7 linked regions of the Homo sapiens genome follow. The protein of the gene in region 3 purifies or fractionates together with the protein of the main gene of each other region. This does not show direct contact. Each region holds a gene or a part of one and is shown on either strand. Other genes may lie near its edges.

What was found.
Region 1: the proteins of ZNF169 (region 3) and MRPS9 purify together in Homo sapiens (affinity purification with mass spectrometry; 2 studies listed by BioGRID and IntAct, with this or other methods). This does not show direct contact.
Region 2: the proteins of ZNF169 (region 3) and TRIM26 purify together in Homo sapiens (affinity purification with mass spectrometry; 2 studies listed by BioGRID and IntAct, with this or other methods). This does not show direct contact.
Region 4: the proteins of ZNF169 (region 3) and SART3 purify together in Homo sapiens (affinity purification with mass spectrometry; 2 studies listed by BioGRID and IntAct, with this or other methods). This does not show direct contact.
Region 5: the proteins of ZNF169 (region 3) and SORL1 purify together in Homo sapiens (affinity purification with mass spectrometry; 2 studies listed by BioGRID and IntAct, with this or other methods). This does not show direct contact.
Region 6: the proteins of ZNF169 (region 3) and LRP1B purify together in Homo sapiens (affinity purification with mass spectrometry; 2 studies listed by BioGRID and IntAct, with this or other methods). This does not show direct contact.
Region 7: the proteins of ZNF169 (region 3) and ZYG11A purify together in Homo sapiens (affinity purification with mass spectrometry; 2 studies listed by BioGRID and IntAct, with this or other methods). This does not show direct contact.

What each region holds. Positions count from the first base shown.
Region 1 is NC_000002.12:105,048,056-105,051,575, reverse strand, and holds part of MRPS9 (small ribosomal subunit protein uS9m), read right to left. Parts: intron 2,406-3,520; coding exon 2,226-2,405; intron 1-2,225.
Region 2 is NC_000006.12:30,199,889-30,203,408, forward strand, and holds part of TRIM26 (tripartite motif-containing protein 26), read right to left. Parts: intron 1,251-3,520; 5' UTR 1,147-1,250; intron 1-1,146.
Region 3 is NC_000009.12:94,299,806-94,302,341, reverse strand, and holds the end of ZNF169 (zinc finger protein 169), read right to left. Parts: exon of another isoform or gene 2,531-2,536; coding exon of another isoform or gene 2,528-2,530; coding exon 972-2,527; 3' UTR 513-971; downstream 1-512. UniProt on the Homo sapiens protein: May be involved in transcriptional regulation.
Region 4 is NC_000012.12:108,551,173-108,554,692, forward strand, and holds part of SART3 (spliceosome associated factor 3, U4/U6 recycling protein), read right to left. Parts: intron 1-3,520. UniProt on the Homo sapiens protein: U6 snRNP-binding protein that functions as a recycling factor of the splicing machinery. Promotes the initial reassembly of U4 and U6 snRNPs following their ejection from the spliceosome during its maturation.
Region 5 is NC_000011.10:121,602,312-121,605,831, reverse strand, and holds part of SORL1 (sortilin-related receptor preproprotein), read right to left. Parts: intron 1,640-3,520; coding exon 1,508-1,639; intron 720-1,507; coding exon 593-719; intron 431-592; coding exon 261-430; intron 1-260. UniProt on the Homo sapiens protein: Sorting receptor that directs several proteins to their correct location within the cell. Along with AP-1 complex, involved Golgi apparatus - endosome sorting.
Region 6 is NC_000002.12:140,700,013-140,703,532, forward strand, and holds part of LRP1B (low-density lipoprotein receptor-related protein 1B precursor), read right to left. Parts: intron 2,542-3,520; coding exon 2,415-2,541; intron 2,281-2,414; coding exon 2,129-2,280; intron 1,834-2,128; coding exon 1,709-1,833; intron 610-1,708; coding exon 238-609; intron 1-237. UniProt on the Homo sapiens protein: Potential cell surface proteins that bind and internalize ligands in the process of receptor-mediated endocytosis.
Region 7 is NC_000001.11:52,859,740-52,863,259, forward strand, and holds part of ZYG11A (protein zyg-11 homolog A), read left to right. Parts: intron 1-991; coding exon 992-1,132; intron 1,133-3,520. UniProt on the Homo sapiens protein: Probably acts as a target recruitment subunit in an E3 ubiquitin ligase complex ZYGA-CUL2-elongin BC.

The sequences.
Region 1 (3,520 bases), on a different chromosome or scaffold from region 3:
TCCTTGCAGGAACTGACAAGCTGATCCTAAAATTTCATATGAAAATTCGAGGAGCAAAGAACAACCAAAATAGTCTTTAAAAGCAAGAAGGAAAGAAGACTACTTACACTTCCCAATTTCAAAACTTACTATAAAGCTACAGTAATCAAGACAAAGTGGTACTGGCATAAGGATAAATGTATAGATCAATGGAATAAAATAAGGTCCAGAAATAAGCCCTCATAGTTACACTGATATTCAATATAAGTGATAAAATAATTCAATGGGAAAAAATAGTCTTTCCAACAAATGATGCCGGAACAACTGAATGTCCATATGTAAAAGAACAAAGCTACATCCCTGCCTCACATCACACACAAAAATTACGTTAAAATGGATCAAAGACCTAAATGTAAGAGCTAAAACTACAAAACTAGAAGAAGAAAATATAAGGGTGAATTTTCATGACCTTGGATTAGCAATGGTTTCTAAGGTATACACATAAGAGAAATAAAAACATATGTCTACACAAGAACTTTATAGCATGCACATTCTTAGCAGTATTATTCATCAGAACTAAAAATGGAAATCCAAATGCCCATCAACTGATGACTGAATTCTTAAAATGTGGTATATCCATACAATCGAAAACTATTCAGTAATAAAAAGGAAGTACTGACACATGCCACAATGTAGATAAACATGAAAACATTGTGCTAAGTGAAACAAGTCAGTCACTAAAGACCAAATACTGTATGACTCTACTTATATGAAAGTCCGGGGTAGGCAAACTTAGAGTCTAGAGAGTCTATGTTCTAGGTGATTTGAAAATTAGGACCTGAATTCTATTCCTGTTGCACTCTTCAATTATTACATTCCTGACAAAAGCAATAATGGTCAATAATTTTTTTTGCTAAATGCCCCAGGATAGCTAGCAAAGGAGCTTAAATTTAACAACTTTGAATCTTGTTCTAATTTTTAAAATGTAATATCTAACATCTCATGGTATTTTATACTTAACTGAAGAATAGCATCTCTTTATGGAAAATATCCCCCAATACTGTCCAGATTACCATAAAACTCAAAAAGAGGACAGCAGCTACAAAGTCCCTAATTACAAATCACCTAACATAGAAGAGCAATAAGAAATCCTTCTGGACCGGGCCGGGTGGCTAACGCCTGTAATCCCAGCAATTTGGGAGGCTGAGATGGGTGGATCGCCAGAGGTCAGGAGTTCAAGACCAGCCTGACCAACATGGTAAAACCCCATCTGTACTAAAAATACAAAAATTATCTGGGTATGGTGGTGCGTGCCTGTAAGCCCAGCTACTCAGGAGGCTGAGGCAGGAGAACTGCTTGAAGCCAGTAGGCAGAGGTTGCTGTGAGCCAAGATCGTGCCACTGCACTCTAGCCTGGGCAACAGAGCAAGACTCTGTCTCAAAAAAAAGAAAAGAAAAGAAAAGAAAAAAATCCTTCTGGTTGAATAAAAAATGTTGGTCTGAAAGTGATACTACAGTACCATTTATAAATAGGAAAAGTATACAGAAAGATTGAAATTAAACTAAAGTGCATAAAATGACTAAAAATAATATTAAAATCGTATAAGAATGTTATTATCTATACAAAGATGTTGTTCTTCGATTAAATATAAAACATCATGGGATATTAGATGTTACTTTTTAAAAATAAGGACAAGATTCAAAGTTGTTAAATTCAACTTCCTTTGCTAGCTACTCTAGGATGTCTAGCAAAAATATTATCGACAATTACTGCTTTTATCAGGAATATAATAATTCAAGAGTGAATAGAATTCTGATCCTAATTTTCAAATCACTTAGACTACGCCCCCATTTTGAAACCTCAGATATATATTTAAGTTGACAAAAACACTGGGCCAAGGTTTACTTATGGGACTTGATATAAATTTGACTCTATTTTCATTACCATCTGTTATATCATTTTGTAAGAAAGCTGAGTCTAAGACTACACAACAGGTTAAACATTTCCCAATAGTGTATGAGCATTTATAGACTCATTTCTAGGTAACACCTAAAACTCACCATACTAAGTAAATCCTGCACATTTGTCTTTGAAACCATGGCTCCAACTTAAACAATGTATAGCAGCATTTTTCCTTATTCTGACAGCTTGATTAAAACACAGAGCTAAGGGGCTCATGAAGAAAAGTGCTTTTAATATCTAAAACTCTACAGCAATTACTTTTTCAACAGAGTAACTGTACTTACGTCAATATCTTCTTGAGTGAAAGTTTCTGGATCTTCTCCCATCATGTTGGCTAAATGTCTCTTTCCTATGTTGAACTCTTCAATCTGCTTTTTAATAAAATCCTCTGTGTAAGTTTCACGTTTTGAGGTAGGAACGTTTTTCTTTGGTATTACAAATGCAGTATGTCTTAGCCTTAATATCTAACAGAAAATATAGATGGAAAGAAAAGAAAATAAATTAAACTGTGATCTTCTAGGCCATTGTCCTTAAATAAAATAGTATATGCAAGTAGTTATCTTTTTTTATTACGGTATTCAAGTGACAGGAGTCCAAAAAGCAAGTTTAAAGGACCTGCTAAGAAAGTTGTTAGAATGTGTCCCCTACTCAAAGCCTTGCTTACAATGCAGTTTAAGCTACTAGCATTTCAATACATTAAAACCAAAAATACCTGTAAGTGGTATGCTACCTCCTGATCTATTTTAAACATCCACTTTTGATAATGATTGGTCAATGTCAGTGAGTTTTGATATTTGACACATGGGATAAAGAGCAAAAGGCTACTCCCTTAAGGAGGCAAATACACACGCACCAGAAACCAGCAAGCAGAAAACACGACAGCAAACGGCATGGCCTGAGGAAGAGCACCTTACACTGTCGGTATTCACCTTATTTGTGGGTAAAAATACGTCCTATCTTTAACCATCTTTTGGCTTAGCTTAAGACTTTATTCCATGGTCCTTATATTAAAGTGATAAAAAGAAAAAATTGCTTGACTGAACATTGAGAAGATTTATTAATTTGGCTCAACATGCTAACTGCAGAAATAAGGGCTCGCATATCTTTTATTTTTCTTTTTTTTAAAATTATTATTATACTTTAAGTTTTAGGGTACATGTGCACAATGTGCAGGTTAGTTACATATGTATACATGTGCCATGCTGGTGTGCTGCACCCATTAACTCGTCATTTAGCATTAGGTATATCTCCTAACGCTATCCCTCTCCCCTCCCCCCATCCCACAACAGTCCCCAGAGTGTGATGTTCCCCTTCCTGTGTCCATGTGTTCTCATTGTTCAATTCCTACCTATGAGTGAGAACATGTGGTGTTTGGTTTTTTGTCCTTGCAATAGTTTACTGAGAATGATGATTTCCAATTTCATCCATGTCCCTGCAAAGGACATGAACTCATCATTTTTTTATGGCTGCATAGTATTCCATGGTGTATATGTGCCACATTTTCTTAATCCAGTCTATCATTGTTGGACATTTGGGTTGGTTCCAAGTCTTTGCTATTGTGAATAGTGCCGCAATAAAC
Region 2 (3,520 bases), on a different chromosome or scaffold from region 3:
GCCTCCCAAAGTGCTGGGATTACAGGCGTGAGCCACTGCACCTGGCCAAGAGACCCCTTTTGTTTGCTCCTCAAGGTTTCAGGTTTCAAGAACTAAGAGAGGGCAATGTGACATGGCTCACCCTGTAAATCCAACACTTTGGGTGGCTGAGGCAGGAGGATCACTTGAACCGAGGAGTTTGAAACCAGCCTCAGCAACATAGTGAGACCCTGTCTCAACTAAAAAAATTTAAAAATTTTTTAAAATACCCCAGTGTAGTAGCATGCATCTGTAGTCTCAGCTACTGAGGAGGCTGTGGCAGAAGGATTACTTGAATCTGGGAGGTGGAGGCTACAGTGAGCCATGATTGTACTACTACACTCCAGACTGGGCAACAGAATAAGAGACTGTCTCAAAACAAACAAAAAACCAGAAAACATTAAAAAACAAACAAACAAACAGCACTGAGGTTCTTTACCAAAACTCGAGAAGCATCAGGAAGCTTCAGGAGTCTGACTGTCAGCATTTCCCTTTGTGAGTATTTCCCTGGGCTGTTCTATAGTTTGGGTTTAATTTGCTTCCCCTAGAAGGCTGGACTCTAAACACAGCCCTCCAGAGGAGCACAGCTTAGCCTCAGTGGACTTGTTCTTGGCTGTAACTGCCTCGTCTAGATGGCAGGAATCCTCAGGTGGCTGTGGCTGCTATGTGCTGTGAGGCCTTGGCTTGTACAGGGAGCGGGGACACACAGAAAGGACTCTGCTTCTGTTTACCTTTGTAGTCCTGACCCAGTTCCAGGCTGAGGTTATGAGCCTCAGCACATCTAACCCAAGAGCAGCCTCCTGCCCCTGACTCTGTGTGACAATACAGAAGTCACTTAAGTACTGAGCCTCAGTGTATCCATCTGTAAAATGGGAAGAGTGATACTTACCTTTAAGGGTTTCTAAGCAGGTCATGTGAAAGAATTATGGGAAAAGTGCTAAGCACAAGCCTGGTACACAGACGGAAATCTAGGAGAGAACCCACAACCCCTGGTTTCCAAATCCAGTGAGTGTCCAAACCACAAACAAAGAGTTAAATTCAAAAGTGGCAGCAAAAGAGGAAGTGAGCAGAACCAGCCACAGTGACACACGTGCTACAGAGTTCAACAACATCGTCACAGGGCAGTACCTGGAGGACTTGCTCTCCTATAGATCCATGGAAGGCAACTACAGCAGCGCTGGGAAGACAACCAGCAGGGCACAGAGGTGACTGCGAGGCTGGAATGAAGCAACCTGAATTACAGGCAAATCAATACTATTAATGATTATGTATGGTGAAAGTCCATCACAACAGAGTTCAGTGGCCTCTGTCAGTAGTGACATTAATGGGACAGAAATAAAACCCCCAGTCTATAAGACCCAAGAGTAAACAAAACAGGGATATAACGTCCACTCATTGAGGGTCTAGTACAATAATACATAAAAAGTGTTTTATAACGTAAAAGGACTACATAAATATAAGAGATTCTTATAGTGCTGATAATAAATTCCAACTGGAAGCACTAATGGATCTAGGTATGTGTGACTTTAAGAGACATAATGAGGGGAAAATCAAGCACCTTCAAAGCTCAAATGAAGGATTCAAGGAATTTAACTGTCAAGTGAAAGTAATATCAAGTTCCTACATGTTAGTAATGCTGGTAGAAATGCTAGGAATTGGCCGGGCACGGTGGCTCACACCTGTAATCCCAACACTTTGGGAGGCCGAGGCAGGTGAATCACAATGTCAGGAGATTGAGACCATCCTGGCTAACACGGTGAAACCCCATCTCTACTAAAAATACAAAAATTATCCAGGTGTGGTAGCATGCACCTGTAGTCCCAGCTACTCAGGAGGCTGAGGCAGGAGAATCAATCACCTCAACCCGGGAGGCAGAGGTTGCAGTGAGCCGAGATCGTGCCATTGCACTCCAGCCTGGGTGACAGAGTGAGACTCCATCTCAAAAAAAAAAAAAGAAAGAAATGCTAGGAATTGCCTGGTCCAACTCCTTGGCTTTACTGTTGAGGAAATAAGCCTGGCTCAGCAGTTTTTCAGTTGTAACATACTGCAAGTGTTTGGAAAGAGGAAAAAGGAGTGGTACTGGGCGTGTCTGTGGGCTTTCAAGCCCTTTATCATGCCTCTTTGCCAAATGGCCTAGAAGTTTAAAAGCTGAGGTTTTTCTTTGTTGAAGGATAGCCTGTGTTATCTTTGGGTTGGGAACTTATTTTGCAATTTACTTGCAAAATAAGAACAATAAAAGGACTATGAAGAGCTCAGCTACAGCTCTTCTTCCATGCAAAACAGGACACCTCATCACCCAGGCTCCATGCTGGGGTTTGATGGTCTCTAAACCTCCTGAAACTGTCTAAAAATTATTGCATATGTACTAGATACCTAAAATTGTCTGGGGATTACAGAAGAATAACCTTCTGTAAGATTAATCAGCAAATAAGTAGAAGAGGGATAACAGAATTAGAAAATCATTTTGCGACTGCCATTATAATAGCACAAGGATCATCAATAGATGCTAAAACTATTAGGTGAAAAGTTTTGGGGGATGAGATAGTACCCATGGTGCCAAAGCACCAATGAATGGATTACTTCCTGACATACCTTCATAAGGAAGAGATCCAGTGGTTATCTTAACTAAGTGACCAAATCCAGCGTCATCAGCAGACGGGGCAAAGTGGCATGTGCTTTCTGGCATGGCACTATATGAATCACACAACATTACCTATGAAGTGTTTGTGCCAAAAATGTTTGACTTGAATGAATCTAGTCAAGACTTTAGATCTAACTTCCAGTTTATAAAAAATATAAAGGAAAGGAATACTCTGAAGTATGTTATAACTGAAAAAGTACCGATGGAGGAATTAAACCACACCATAAGGAAAGAACCAGATAAATCCAGAATGCTGGACATTGCACATGGCAACTGGCCTAGTCTTTTAAAAAGTCAATGTCATAAAAAAAAACCTTCGAAAGAACTGCTTTTGATTTTTACAGACTAAAGAGAAATAATAACCAAATGCAATACGTGAACCTTGATTGGATCCTGTAAAAAGAAAAAAAAGGTTATAAAAATAGTCTTGGAACTATTGTGGGAAATTTGTAAGTAGGCTGGGTGTTAGATCATATTAAAAAATTATTTCCTCTCTTTCTTTTTTTTTTTTTTTTTTTTGAGACAGGGTCTTACTCTGTCCCCCAGAGTGCAGTGGAACTATCTGGGCTCACTGCAACCTCGGCCTCCCTGGCTCAAGCAATCTTCTCATCTCAGGCTCCCGAGTTGCTGCAACAACAGGTGCATACTACCACACTTGGCTAATTTTTAAAGGTTTTTGTAGAGAAGAGTTGCCACTATATTGCCCAGGCTGGTCTCAAACTCCTAGGCTCAAGCCATCCTCCCACCTCAGCCTCCCAAAGTGCTGGGATTATAGGCATGAGCAACTGCACCATGTCTAAAATTATTTTCTTAATGGTATTTACTGAGGTTATGTATGAGAATGCCTATACTTCTTATTTA
Region 3 (2,536 bases):
ACTGCAGCTCCCGTGAGCCTAAAAAGCAGGGCTGCCAATCCAGTTGGCCCAGAAGGCAGAGCACTGAGCCAAAGGGGATTATTCTCGAGACTTAAAATCTAATGGAAGTTGCCTTGCCAGGTTTGAGACTTGCTTGGGATCCATCATTCTTCATTTCTTTCTCATGTCTTTCCTTTGGAATGGGGAAGTCCAGCCTCTGCTTGTCCCACCATTGTAGAATATTGTGGAAGCAGATATCTGTCTGGTTTCACAGGATCACACCTGGAGAATTTTGCCTAAGGATGAATTGTACCTAAAGTCTCATTCACACTTGATTTAGATGATATTTAAATGAGATTTTGGATCTAGAGGTGAAGTTGAAATGGGTAAAGAATTTTGGGACTGTTGGGATCATGTGAATGTATTTTGAATGTCTGAGGGACCTGAACTTTGGTAGTGGAGTGTTATAGACTAAATTGGGTTTCCCAGAAATTCATATGTTGAAGTCCTAACTGTGTAGTGTGACTGTATCTAGAGATAAGGCCTTTAGGAAGGTTATTAAGGTTAAACGAGGCCATGTGGCTGTGGCTCTATCCAAAATGACTGGTGTCCCTAGAAGAGGAGGAAGCCACACCAGGAAAGCATACACACAGAAAAAAGCCCACGTGAGGACGTGGCCAGAAAGCAGCCATCCGCAAGCCAAACAGAGAGGCTTAAGCAGCAGCCAAACCTACCAATACGTTCATCTGGGACTTCCAGCCTCCATAAATATGAAAATATATTTCCGTTGTCAAAATCACCCAGCCTGGGGTACTTTGTTATGGAACCCCTAGCAAGCCAAGACAAATTGTGAATATAGAAAGTAAACCAAAAATCAACTATCTCATGATCGATGAAAGAAAGCAACATTTTTTTTTTTCCATTCCATTTCAGGAAACTGAAGCATTTACTAGTGATTTCTGCCAGCTTCACACTCACGGGGAAAGGAAAGGTCAGAAGACCTCTTGGGGTAGGAGCTGATGACCAGACTTGGTCCTCCTGTGTCTATGCAAGTGAGACTTCTGGCTAAAGCCACGCCCACACTCCCTGCAGACATACGGCTTCTCCCCAGAATGGGTCCGCTGATGTCGGATGAGGGCAGACTTAAAGCCAAAGCCGCGCCCACATTCATCGCAAATGCAGGGCTTCTCTCCTGAGTGTGTCCTTTGGTCAGAGATAAGGTGTGACTTCTGGCCAAGTCCTTGTCCACACACCCTGTCTACGTAAAGCTCCTCCTCTGAGTGTGTCCTCTGGTGTCGGGTGAGGAGCGACTTAAAGCCAAATGCACGCCCACACTTGGGGCACAGATAAGGCTTCTCCCCTGTGTGTGTCCTCTGGTGTCTGATGAGGGTGACCTTCTGACCAAAGCCACGCCCACAATCAGGGCACAGGTAGGGCTTCTCCCCTGTGTGTGTCCTCTGGTGTCCAATGAGGGTGACCTTCTGGCTAAAACCCCGCCCACACTGGGGGCACAGGTAAGGCTTCTCCCCTGTGTGTGTCCTCTGGTGCCTGATGAGAGTGACCTTTTGGCGAAAGCTGTGCCCACACTCAGCACAGACATAAGGCTTCTCTCCTGAGTGTGTGACCTGGTGACTAAGGAGGAGTGACTGCTGCCTGAAGCTACGCCCACACTCAAGGCACAGGAAGGGCCTCTCCCCTGTGTGTGAGCTCTGGTGCTGGAGGAGTGATGCCTTCTGGCAAAAGCCTCTCCCACACTCAGGACACACGAAGGGCTTCTCCTCCAAGTGCGTCCTCTGGTGTAGAAGGAGGGCTATCTTCTGGCGAAAGCCTCGCCCACACTCCTGACATACAAAGGGCCTCTCCCCGGAGTGAATCCTCTTGTGATTAGTGAGAGAGGATGTATACCTGAAGTGTCGCCCACATTCCCTGCACACATACGGCTTCTCCCCCGAGTGCTTCCTCTGGTGTATGGAGAGGGAGGCCTTCTGGCTAAACCGACGCCCACACTCAGGACACAGGTATGGCTTCTCCCCGGTGTGTGTCCTCTGGTGCTTGATAAGGTCTGATCTCTGGCAAAAGCCTCTCCCGCATTCAGGGCACACATGATGCTTCTGGTGGCTGAACAGGCTTGACTTTTTGCTAAGTCCCAGTCTATAGTTTCCACGTATGACTGCTCCAGATTCTGAAGTGTCTGCTCCCTTCAACATTGTGTCTGACCCCCCAAGACTCATCCTTTGGGCCAGGCGAAGGTCTGTTCCTCCTTCTCTGTTCCCTTCTACCCATTCTACTGGGTCACCTTGATGTGGGCTGAAGAATGTCCTAGAAATTCTGCTTGGCCTCTTTCTTAATGAGCTGTCGGGGCCTTCTGTCTCTCCACTTTCTCCTTTTTCACTAGAGCATCTTGGAGCTTCTAGTTGGAAGTCACCTCCTGCAGATGAGCTTGGGAAGATCTGTGTGGGATGGCCACTTAGCGCATATTGTCTGAGGAGCTGCGAGCTAGAAAAGGCCACCAGGTGGGGAAAACTTGGCTGGAATTCTGTTCTAGGCTCTGCTAGAG
Region 4 (3,520 bases), on a different chromosome or scaffold from region 3:
AAGTTGAAGCGGACATATTAATATCACATAACGTACACTTCAGAGCAAAGAAAATTACTAGAGATAAAAAGGATTATATAATGACACATAATAATAAATAGATCAATCTACCAGGAAGACATAACAATCCTAAATGTGTAGGAACCAAAGAGCGCTTGAAAATTCATGAAGCAAAAACTATTACAGAGCTCAAAGAGACACAGCAGCAATTACATTTGGCAACTTCAACATCTCCCTTTTCAGCAACTGATAAAACTACTAGACACTTGAATATGTTGAACCTGGTCAAAAAGAAGATGAATAAAAGAAAAAGAAAATTAGACAAAAGCAAATTAAAAAATTTTTAAGTTTTTAAAAAGAAAGGAAATTGTTTAATTTTTTTTTAAACTAGGCAGAACAGGGTTATAGAAGAACTCAATAACGCCGTCAACGAACATGACCTAATTTATATAGAGAACAGCCCACCCAACAATACAGAATATGTATTTTTCTCAAGTACTTACGGAACATTCACTGAAGCCATATCCTTGGCCATAAAACAAACCTCAACAATTTAAGAGAAATGAAAACCATGCAGAGTATGTTTTGTGACCACAATGGAATCAAATTAGAAACCACTAACAGTAAGAAAATCTCTGAACACGTGAAAATTAAGTAATACACTTCTAAATAATCTGCAGGTCAAAGAGGAAGTCTCCAAGAAAATTTACAAATTAAAAAAAGTGAATGAAAATGAAATTGCAACAAATCAAAATAAGTAGGATGCTACTAAAACAGTACGGAGGAAAATTTAAAGAACTAAATTCAGTGTATAAGAAGAATTATACACCATGACCAAGTGGTATTTATTCCAGGTTTGCAAGGCTAATTCAACATTTAAAAATCAATTACTGTAATCCAGTGTATCAAAAGGCTAAAGAAAACTCATGGTATCAATAGATGCAGAAAATGCATGTGACAAAATCCAACAACGATTCATGGTTAAAACACTCAGCATGTTAGGAATAGAGGGAAACAACCTCAACCTGATAAAGAGCATCTATAAAAAATCTATCCCATAAGTTGGGATATAGGGTTACCTTAACATCATTCCTAATGGTAAAAGATTGAACACTTTCCTCCTAAAATCAAGAACAAGGCAAGGATGTCTGCTCTCACCACTCTTTTCCAACAAAGTCCTATAAGTTCTAGCCTGTTCAATAAGACAAGGAAAAGAAATAAAAGCTATACAGCTCGGAAAAATAAAACTGTCCTGATTTGTAGATGATATGGCTAAGTAGACAATCTTAAGGAACCAATTAAAAAAAAAAAAAACTCCAAAAATAGTGAACTGAGCAAGGTCACAGAATATAAGATAAACATACAAAAACAAAAAAAAAAACAAAAGAACATGTGGAAACCAAATTTAAAGACATAGCACCATTTACAATCACTCCAAAAAACCTAAATAATTAGGTGTATATTTAAAAAGTTTACAAAATCTGTATGCTGAAAATTACAAAATGCTGAGGAAAGAAATCAAAGACCTAAAAAAAGAGACACTTCATGTTCATGGATTGAAAAACTCAACATAGTCAAGAAGTAAATTCTCCCTAAACTGACTTACAGGCTTACTGAAACTCCAATTAAAATCCCAACAAGGTTTTTTGTAGACCTAGACAAGCTTATTCTAAAATGTATATGGGATGGCAGAGGCCCTAGAATAGCTAAAAATGATCTTGAAAAAGAATAAAGTGGGAGTAATCACTCTACCTGATTGATACTAAAACCTACAATACAGCTACAATCATCAAGGCAGTGTGAGAATGGCAGAAAGATACATAGATGAAGAGAATAGAACCCAGTAACAGACCCACACAAATATGCCCAAATAATTTTTGACAAACGCAATGCAACAGAGGAAAAAAAAAGGCATTTTCAAAAAATGATGCTGGAGCAAATGGATATCCACAGGCAAAACAAATAAATACACCTTGACCTAAACTTCACGCCTTACAGAAATAACTCAAAATGGATCACACTTAAATGTGAAATGTAAATATAACATCACAAAATGTTAGGACAAGAGAAAAATTTCAAGGCAACATCAAGGATCCTTAAGGTGACAGAACTGATCTGTATCTTGACTATATCAATGTCAATACCCAGGTTATTACATATTATAGTTCCTCAAAGTGTTATCATTGAGGGAAACTGGGTAAAAAGTACACGAAAAATCTCTATTATTTCTTACAAGTGCATGGAAATCTACAATTATCTCAAAATAAAAAGGCGAATTGTTTAAAAAGCTTTTGTTGGGATATAGGGATAATTTAAGTCTGTACACCAAGACTTCATTAGTATCTACTCTTCCAACATCTGCCACATTTTAGGAATATTTCCCTCTCCAGAGATAAAAGATTACCTACACTTCATTCAAATTACACTCTACCATCTGACAACATACCCTAATAATCCAGGTACTAGATATTTAATTAAAATACAGAAAGACAGCCAATGAATATGATTACTTGAACTTTAGGATAAAAATCTTAACAATGAAGTAGCCAGTGAACCTTTAAATGGAGTGGGGACAAGGACCAACCATTCAGAGAATACAAATATGAAGGATTACGGGGTTTTGTTCAAGTGTTTAGATTTTAAACAAGAACTCATTATCTTTCTCTACTAATTATAATAGTAAAACCCTTCCATGGCTTCCCAGTATCCTAGGAACAATTTGCAAATCCCTGCCTCATGTGCAATCCCAGCATGCTGGGCTCATCTCTCCAGCTACATCTCAAACCACCGGCCTCTCAACATGGCAGCCAGCTTCGTGTAACTCAAACATTCCAACGTCTCTCCAACCTCAGGGCTAGGCACCTGCTGCTCCTTCAGCCCAGAAGGATCTCTCACCTTCTCTCTGCCTAGCCACCCCTTTTCATACTTCAGGTATAAACTTCACTTCCTCAGAGGGCGCCCCCGGCCCCCCTCCTATGCCACTCTTTCTTAAGTAGCCCCCTATATGCTGCAAGCTGTTTTCCATCTCATCATCGTGTTTATTTCCATCATGACCTAAAGGCTTCATGGGATAAGTACCTTGTATGTCTTATCCTTGACTTGGTTAGATTCTTTACCTACCTGGCACACAGAATTCAATAAATTACATGTCAATCTCACTCAAGAGCATTAATACAAAAATCCTAAATAAAATATTAAAAAATCAGAAATGTATAAAGAGAACAATACATAATGATCAATTTGGGTCTATCCCAGGAATGCAAGGGTGTTTTTACACTACAAAATCATCCAGTATAATTTTTCCACCATCAGATTTGAGGGAAAAAAACATGATTACCTCAATGAAGAAATAGCATTTGATTAAAACATCCATTCATGAGTCAAAATTAAGAATTAGCAAACTAGGAATAGAAAGGCACTTCCTTAACCTGATTTTTAAAATCTGCAATAAATATATTTTAATAACATATTTATATATTTATTATATTGTTTATTATATATTTATATATTTATATTTAGT
Region 5 (3,520 bases), on a different chromosome or scaffold from region 3:
GAGGTAGAAACTAGACAAAAAATGCAAGAGGGCAATGGTGGAGAGAATCTTAAATTAACTTAAGGTACAAGAACAGTCTCTGATGCAGTAAGAAGAACAGATGTTTGACAACTCTGGCAAGACTATAAAGCTTAGCCACCATACTTCTGTACATGTGAGGCACACATATGTTCCCACATTCCTGAGAATACTCAGAAAGACCCTCACAAACCCCGACCTGAGGTCTTACCCATGCCATAAAAATTAACTGAAACACTTACATCCCTCTGGGGTCCTCAGGGTCACAAAGTCATTGGTGTTGTGTGCCTTGCTGAGACACTGAACCTGTACTTTAACCTGATACGTGGTATCTGGTTTCAAGACTTTTAATACAGTGTTTGTCTTATTGCTGTGGGTCTCCAGAGTCTTCCATATGCTCTCTCCAACCACCCTGGCCCAAAAAAAAATAAAGATATTGTCACACTGGAGCAGCATGGGGGGCTGAGATGTCTGACTCCGTTAATAGCATGGTGCATGCCACTAGAGAGTTTACAGAACATCCTGGGGCAATGAAGACATCATTTTCATCTCCCATGACAAAGATGGGACCTACCTGTAGTAGACATTATATACACAAGAAGCAGAGGGCATTTTTTTGGGCCTCATCCAGGTCAAAGTCACATCCCCAGAGAAGTCAGCTGTCCACTGAAGATTCTGTACTTTGTACACAGTCAACTCATCTAGAGAGATAAAGGAGAAAAAGACAAACAAAGTTACATCTTGGCTGGGCGTGGTGGCTCACGCCTGTAATCCTAGCACTTTGGGAGGCCGAGGCGGGCAAATTGCCTGAGCTCAGGAGTTCGAGACTGGCCTGGGCAATGTGGCTAAACCCCGTCTCTACTAAAAATACAAAAAAAAAAAAGTTACATCTTACAAATCCTTAGATTTCAAAGGACTCCTGCTTTTAAACAGAACTACCATGATCTAGATTATCAGGAGGCCATAATCATTATCTGAAAAGAAATCTCAGAAAATGTAGTTGAAACCTCCCTATACAATCCCTCCTAGGGTCTCCTACTTTTCCGGTCGTGATATTTTCCCTCGAATTTCATCTTCCTCCTGCCTATGACAATTTAAGCCTATTTCTCCATAGAGAATGCTACAAGTCCAAGGACCATGTCATAGGGTCCATTACTAGACACTCCAGAGATAAGAACTGAGTTAATCCCACCAGCAGATTGAGACTGTGAGAGCCATGGTGTATGGGCATGAGGTGGGAAGTCCATAAAAAAAAAAAAATCCAAGACTAGCATTTCACTAACAGGGAGGAGACAGCTGCATGTTGTATCAGAGTCTGGCCAAGGCTCACCTCACTTGGGGCTCCAAAACTAGGCACAAATCTGTTTTATCCTTAGATTGAGCAACAGTTCAAAAGGGTCCTAGCTCAAGGTCTACACAGGAGGGGCCCTGGGGTAAGCGAGCCTCCCAGCCCAGCCCAGCCCAGCCCAGCCCGTGGACCGGCACTCACCACTGCAGGCCTTTTCATCGCTCTCGTCCGAGCAGTCCAGGAAGCCGTCGCAGCGCTCCGAGAGCACAATGCAGGCCTCCCCGTCCTCGCACTGGAACTCCCTGCTCATGCAAGTCAAGGTGCTGTGTGTGGCTGAAACACAGAGAGGCTTCTTAAGTCCACGGGGAGGGGCCGTATGGTACTAAAGGCTGGGCCCAAGTTTATTCCCATTTAGGCAAAGTACTAATTGGCTTCTGCTTCAAAACACACCTCTGGAATGACCAGTGGTGGAATCTATACCGGCACTAAGGTGCCATCTCATCTAACATTAACAACTGGAATCTGCATTCGGGAAGAGTGAGCACTTTGGAGTCAAACAAACTAGAGTTTAAATCCTAGATCTGCATGAGCTTGAGCAAACAGCTTAATATCACCTGAGTTCAGTTGCCCTATAAAAAATGGAAGTAACAATTCCATCACTATCATGTCTGCAAGGATCTAATGAGATCACACACCTGGAACACTGCCTGGCTCCTGGCCGGCATCAACAAACTGTAGCTATTACTCTATAGTACTATTAATTATTCTGCTACTATTATTAGTTTGCAATCTAGAAAGAGGAGCTGATTTCTGGTTTGAGTAACAGAAATAACAATGAGATGAATCCCAACAATATTAAGAGGCATGCATACTTTATGTAGTATTTAAAGTTGTTTGGCTTTTCAAAGTACTTGAACAGAAAATGAAATAATGCAAATAATGAGCACTGGTAAGTTAAGGGTTATGCAACTGTATGTCTAGGCTATTGACCAAAATGTGATGTGCTCTCCAGTTCTGAAAGTAGATTAAAACTGCACGGGAGGCTCCAAAAAGAAAGCAATGACCGTATAATTGCAAATGCTCCTGAAAAGAGAAAAGGTGAGAATGGCTGTAGACAGCAAATCTGCTATGCAGGCTGTGTACCTGGGTGGTACAAATCTGCTATGTAGCTGGTTGAGCCCAGGAACAGTAACTTGAGGCCTTCCTTATACAGATTCACACCTGCCTGCCCAGTCCTGGACAAGGAAGGGCTACATCAGAAATCCAATCCCACCAGTGATGAGGGTCTAAAATCAATCTTGCTCCTCCAAGTCAAAGACGTCCACATCCTAATCCCTGGAACCTGTAATATGTTACCTTATGTAACAAAGCAACTTTGCAGGTGTGATTAGATTAAGGACCCATAGGTAGGAGAGTTCAGCCTGGATTATCCAGGTGGGCTCTGTCTAATGACATGGGTCCTTAAAAGCAGAGACCCTTTTCTGGTTGTGGTGAGAGACAGAGAGAATACAGAAGACAGGTGAGAGACATGCAACATCACTGGCTTTGAAAATGGGGAAATTATAACAGACAAAAGGAGGCTGAACATGAGTGGCTCCATTCTGCTCCCCGCACCCTGCCCCCTGCCCATGGTGACATCTTGTAGGTTAACGGCCTCTGCCTATCTCTGCACGTAGGCCAAGCTAACTATGGAAGGAATTTTGTTTATAGTTTAATTTTAAAGCAAGGATGATAATAGTCCCTTCCTGAAACTAAGCCCTGAGGAAATAAAGAGAGTGTACACACAAGTAACAAAGTTATGTTAAAGGTGATATGAGCATTGTGACCTGAGCAAGGAAGCTTCATACGCCCCACTTCAGACCCAGGCATGTGGTCATGGGTCACCTCTTGACCTCGACCCCCTCCCTCTTCTCCTTCCTCCTAACATAAACAACCACACTTTGAGATATAGGTAGAGAAACTGGATAATGTTCCCATGAGAGCAACCAGGATGGTCAAGAGGAATGGATAAAGGATCCAGGGATATTTTCCTAGAGGTGAAAAGATACAAGGATGGGGGAGGTGGTGAGAAGACATGCAGACCACTCTGACAAGTGTTCTCCACTGATGAGTTTTCATGAGAAAGAAGAATTAAGACTTCTTTGCACGAGTCTCTAGGATGGAGGTACAGACTTCAGTTCACTACTTATTCAAAAACAATCCTGATAAAAAATT
Region 6 (3,520 bases), on a different chromosome or scaffold from region 3:
TAAACCTTCCATGATTAGAAGGTAATAATCATAATTTGCTGTACATGCTAGCAATTAATTGCTTCTTTGACATTTGGCGGGGGGGTGGGGGGTGAGGGTTAGATGATATAGTCACATTCATTCCTGAATATAAAATCTAGGAAAATGTAATTGCTACATGCAATTACCACTATTATTTCTCTAGTAATCTAAATGATACTCATTTCCACCTATTTAAAATTGAATTACTGTACTTACTTTCAACAATTACTTGTCTGTCTTCCCAGTTGTCTTTAATAAGCTGTATATTTCCAAAGTGTGCATCACTGTAAAAGATTCGGTTGGTACCTTTTCTTCTTTGATTATAGTCAAAAGCCAAGGCTATGACATTCTTGAAATAACGTGGATTCTCATATGGCCTTATTGGGGAATTTAAATTGGTTTCATCAGAAAGATGTATACTTTTTAATATTGTTCTTCCTGAATACAGTAAATAGCCTTCATGCCTCAGGCAAGTAACTCCATCTTCTGCCAAATATCCATGGGCACAAGCACAAGTTCTCCGGGAATTTCCTCGATAAAGACAGAGTTGCTTACAGCCACCATTGTCCCTGGCACAAACATTGGTCCCTAATGAAGAAAAATGATACACACATGCACATGTTTATGTTTTTCTTTTGTTTTTGAAACAAAATTCTCCATAAAGAAATATTAAAACTTTGATGTTGAATATTCTCTTTTTGCTCTTAATTTTAAGCTGGTCAATAAAAAATTAAAAAAGTATTGTTTTTTAAAAAATCACAGCAGTTTAAATCTTGGGTTTCTTTATTTGGAAAATCATAGTCTGTTTCATTCACCATCCAAGTTAAGCATTAAATTTTTCCCTTAATGAACCAGTTAAGTATATAAATCTTTTTTGAAACTTGATACTTATAGTGTTTCATATATTGTTCATTTAAAACATGAATTGATCTCACCAGAAATAATGCACTGCTTTAAACTCTATCTTTGAGATATGGAAAGCATCAAAGAAATCTATAGCTACAATGTGCCTAACCTCCTAAATATGCTGAGCATAAGTTCTTACTCCAATTTTAAGTGAAGATAAAAAATGCACTTAAAATTTCTTCACCAGTCTAATTCTCCTTTGTGAATTCATTATTATTATCTCCAACATTATTATAACTTCCTTTGATACAAAAAAGTTAGTTACAATTTATTTTAATGGAGGTAAACAAATTTTAAATACCCAAATCATTGTCCTGTAAGTTTAGAATAAATATTTTAAGGAAGTAATGACTTTGGAAATATTTTACATTAACAGCATCACCTTTGGGATCATAACCACTTATTATATAATATGATTCATATTATGTATAAAAATTTCAACTGCCTTTTATTAATATCCTACTTATGCTTTTAATTTTTTATCCAATCAATACATGTTTCAAGTTTTTCTATATTCCTTAGCCAAAACCTATAATCAAGACATGCCAGGTATGTAACATGTCCATGTACCTGTGCTGTCCTGGGCAAATACGCTTTTGTATGAAATATGACATATTTATTGTATTAGGCTACTATATGATACTTGCAGGAAATTAGATGTAAAGATAATGTTTTGAGGTTTTAGACTTATAGAAGAATTTCTAAGTTTGACAATGTTTTTAAAAATTGGAGAGAAATCACATAAAATATACATATTATGTATTCTTTCAAGAGTGCTGACCTTTCTCTCTTACTCGGTTAAATATTTTAACCTCCTTCAGGTTGACTCCAAGGCCGGTTCTCATGGTTATCGTTTCTGTGGCATCATTCTTGTGGCCCCTTCTGACAGACCCGTTTGCATGTGCTCTGCCAAAAAGTTGAACATACATGATCAACAATCTTCGACTAATTAAAGTCAAGCCAGTTACTTAAGCTGAAGATAACAGATGGACCAACAGAAGGGAAAGAAACCAACTTTAGTCTGTGACATTGAAATGCTTCAGCTTGGAATAGCAAGAGTACCTGCCTTTTCTGTGGAAATTACTGGCTTTGTGAGTTCCTTTTTGTGACCTTGCTAAGAAATGGTAAATCCTACAAGGGTAAAGCAACTGGCACTGAAATAACATTTTGAGACTCAAATACTTATGAAAAAATAAATTACCTGTCAGACCAGTAGATGTAAGCCCCAAAGACTGCAACTGAAAACATATCCACATTGCTTCCTGACAGCACCATCTCGCGATTCCCTCCAGTCTCAAGGTCGATTCTCTCTATCTTGTCTGTGCGAGCATCACACCAGTACAATTTATTTTCCTAAATATCGATTAAGAAGTAACGTTACAGACTATATTTGATTGTTTTATTAAGAAAATAAAGGAACACTAAAAGTAGGTAAATTAAAGTTGTCAGTTAAGGCACTTTAAATACTGAAAAGAAATCCAACAGACCTCATAGTCGATGGAGATGCCATTCGGCCATGCTATTCCCATGCTTACAAGGACAACCTTCTCTGAGCCATCCAAGCGAGCCTTTCCAATACAGGGCATTTGTCCCCATTCAGTCCAGAACAAGAGGCTGAAATTAAATTGTTAATTTGTAGTGTTTATGTACATTTATTTGTAGTATGCAGAGCTATGCAAAAAGACATTACTAATAACAGCAGTAGCATTCACACTAGAATAAAAATAATACATTTCGGAAGTTAATATACAGTGTGCTTATGGTTCCGATAAAATAATTTTTATCGTAAAAAAATAGTTAACCAGTCATACAAATCATAGGATGCACTCAACATCCTACCAAAATACCTTTTGTGCCTGCTATTTCCTGTCTCAAATGCTCTTCTCCAATCTGTTTGCCTAATTACTTCCTACTTTTCATATCTCAACTATTTCTTTCCAGAAGCCTTCTGTGTCTTCCCTGTACCATGTGCTCTGCTTCACAACACAGATTAGAATGGCAAATTTCCACTTGTATTTCCTTACATTATCATTTATTATAAATATTTTTTGCCCCCACTAGACTGTAAGCTCAACAAGGACAGTGATCACTCCTCTATTTTCATTCACTATTACTCCTTTAGCACCAGGTAATTAGAAATTTTGTGGTAAATACATATTTAATTTATGAATATAGACATGAATGCATCATAACTTTCTATTTTTTCTACTTAGACTGCTAAATGTAACTAATCTAGTTTGAATTTTATGTTATCTTGTGAAGTCATCTTAAAATACGGTTTTATGCAAAAGCAGAAATTCTTATTTTAGTAATCTTATAAAACAAAATGTAATGGGGGACTATGTGAAAGAAAATGTCATGCAGAAAGAACACATATAGTATGCCAAAATAAAACAACATGTCATAAAATAAAATGTAGAAAAACAGAATGTACATAATCCATGTATTTCACTCATTCATTCAAAAAATTCGATATTCATAGGACTATACAGAAATCCATGCTTTTAGATAAATATAATTCCTTCTTAATTCTTAATTTGAAGTTACATCTACTGAAGTTTTTATCCAACTATCAGACATCAGCAGTGAATAA
Region 7 (3,520 bases), on a different chromosome or scaffold from region 3:
TGATCTCGGCTCACTGCAACCTCTGCCTCCCGGGTTCAAGTGATTCTCCTGGCTCAGCCTCCCTAGTAGCTGGGACTATAGGCGTGCACCACCACGCCCATCTAATTTTTGTACTTTTAGTAGAGATGAGGATTTACCATGTTGGCCAGGCTGGTCTTGAACTCCTGACCTCAGGTGATCTGCCCACTTTGGCCTCCCAAAGTATTGGGATTACAGGCCTGAGCCATTGTGCCCCGGCCTACTGTCTTGATTACTATAACTTTATATGAAGTCTTGAAATTGGGTAATGTGACTTCTTCAACTGTTATTCTGTTTCATAATTGTTTTGGTTATTCTAGGTTCTTTGTATTTCCATATAAATCATAAAAGCAACTTGTCAATATCTACAAAAAGGACTACTGGTATTTTAGTTGGGATTGCATTAAATCTGTAGGTCAGTTTGAGGAAAATTGCCGTTTAATAACGTTGAGTCTCATGTTGTTTTAAAAAATAGAGGCGAGGTCTCACTATGTTGTCCAGGCTGGTCTCGTAGTCCTGGGCTCAAGCAACCCTTGAGCCTCAGACTCCCAAAGTGTTGGGATTACAGGCATTAGCCACCACGCCTGGCGCTAGTCTCCTGATTCTTGAATCCTGTATATCTCTGCATTTATTTAGATCTTTACTTTCTCTCAGCATATTTTGTCATGTAGCTGGGACTACAGGCGCCTGCCACCACGCCTGGCTAATTTTTGTAATTTTAGTAGAGATGGGGTTTCACCATATTGTTCAGGCTGGTCTCTACTCCTGACCTCGGGTGATTCACCTGCCTCAGCCTCACAAAGTGCTGGGATTACAGGCGTGAGCCACTGCGCCTGGCCAACACCTGGAACATTTAATTGAACATTTGTTGTTATTGTCTTAAACACTGGATGCCCCAAAAACCCTGTGGTTAAAAATGAATGGTGAAAAAATATGAATGGTGAAACCTGTTTGGTAACATCTTTATTTTCAGGTTGCTGGAGGAGCCAGTATGAGTCAGATTTCAGAAGCACTGAGCCGATACAGGAACAGATCATGTTTTGTGAAGGAAGCCCTCCACAGGCTGTTCACAGAGACATTTTCAATGGAGGTAACCATGCCTGCTATTTTAAAGGTAATTGAAGGAAGACAATTTTTACTATTACTTCTTAACTTGGTTCAATTAATAATTGTTCACGAACCACACTGAATATAATAAATTATATGCTTTATTCTATAGTGAGTCAAGTGCTCTCATAGAGCAAAGAATGTTAAGCTTAGCTGCCAAAGTGTCTTTTGCTTTGAGCATCTGGATTTATGTGGAATAAATTAGAATCAAAACAGTTAAAATTTGGTCTAAGTAAGGGAATAATAGGATCATGTGGCTTTCTGAAAGAAAACAAGTGCAGAACAAAATAAAAATAATTAAGGGTGGCCAAATCTACCACTTGAAGTATTTTGTGAATGACATAAAGTTGCTTTTATCGATATAGCCAAACTTAGCTTTGGTTTAGGGAAGGATGCGTTTTATTGTAAATGTAATTACAAGTATTAAGAGGCTTGGGAAAGAAAACTTCAGTTATTTATTTTTCTTTTATACATGTGTTTATTTGAAAATTGTTGTTTTTAGTGAAACATAACAATGAAAGGTCTTAAGAAAAACCTTGTCTTTATTTGTAATTTTTTGCAATTCCTTAAAAATGTGGATATTTTCCCAGCACTTTGGGAGGCCGAAGCGGGTGGATCACGAGGTCAAGAGATTGAGACCATCCTGGCCAACATGGTGAAACCCCGTCTCCACTAAAAACAATACAAAAATTTGGTGGGCGTGGTGGCGCACTCCTATAGTCCCAGCTACTTGGGAGACTGAGGCAGGAGAATCGCTGGAACTCGGGAGGTGGAGGTTGCAGTGAGCCGAGATTGTGCCATTGCACTCCCTCCTGGTGACAGAGCGAGACTCAAAAAAAAATATTTTTACAGCATGGGAGATTAACTTTATTTACAGCTCAAAAGCTGTATAAAGAAAAACTCTGGGTCAGCTGTGGTGGCTCATGCCTGTAATCCCACCACTTTGGTTGGGAGGCCGAGATGGGAGGATTTCCTGGGGCCAGGAGTTCAAGACTAGCCTGATCAACATTAGTAAGACCCTGTCTCTACAAAAATTTAGAAAAAGAAAAAAAATTAGCTTCTGGCTGGGCACCATGGCTCACGCCTGTAATCCCAGCACTTTTTGGGAGGCTGAGGTGGACAGATCACCTGAGGTCAGGAATTTGAACAGCCTGGCCAACATGGTAGAACCCCGTCTCTACTAAAAATACAAAAATTAGCCAGGCGTGGTGGCAGGTGCCTGTAATCCCAGCTACTCAGGAGGCTGAGGCAGGAGAATCACTTGAACCTGGGAGGTGGAGGTTGCAGTGAGCCGAGATGATACCACTGCACTCCAGCCTGGGCGACAGAGCAAGACTCTGTCTCAAAAAACAAAAAAAAAGTTAGGTGGGCATGGTTGTACATGCCTATAGTCCCAGCTACTTGGGTGACTGAGATTGGAGGACTACGTGAGCCCAGGATTTTTTTTTGGTTTTTTTTTTTTTTTGAGACGGCGTCTCGCTCTGTCGCCTAGGCTGGAGTGCGGTGGCTTGATCTCCGCTCACTGCAGGCTCCACCTCCCGGGTTCACACCATTCTCCTGCCTCAGCCTCCCAAGTAGCTGGGACTACAGGCGCCCGTCACCACGCCCAGCTACTTTTTTGTATTTTTTAGTAGAGATGGGGTTTCACCGTGTTAGCCAGGATGGTCTCGATTTCCTGACCTCGTGATCCGCCCGCATTGGCCTCCCAAAGTGCTGGGATTACAGGCGTGAGCCACTGCGCCCGGCAAGCCCAGGAGTTTGAGGCTGCTACAGTAAGCTATGATGGTGCCACTATACTCCAGCCTGGGTAACAGAGCGAGATCCCAACTCAAAAAAATAAAATAAATTAAAAATTCTCGACCTTTTTTTCCATCTGTAAGGAAGAGATTGAATTAGATGTTCTTCTGTTTTTGTTTGTTTTTGTTGTTCTTTGAGACAGGGTCTCACTCTGTTGCCCAGGCTGGAGTGCAGTGGCATGATATGATCTCAGCCAACTGCAGCCTTGACCTCCTGGGCTCAAGTGATCCTCCTGCCTCAGCCTCCTGAGTAGCTGGAACTATAGGCATGCCCCACCATGCCTGGCTGTTTTTTTTGTTTTTTCTGTAAAGATGAGGTCTTACTGTGTTGCCTAGGCTGAATTTAGATGTTCTAAATTTCTTTTCATACCAGGATTGTGTAGTTTTTGTGAAAATCACATTTCTTTTGGTTTCTGGATTTCTAAATTGCAGATGATGGCAATCTAATGAAACTGAAAAATCAATTTAGCAATATACAAAAAAAAAGTCATTTTCCATAGCAGAAGTATATCCCAGGTCTGTCTCTAGTAGAGGAAACAGATCACAGTGTCCTTGAATGACAGAGCAGGTGGGGTCTAAGCTTGGAACAATGCCCTCAT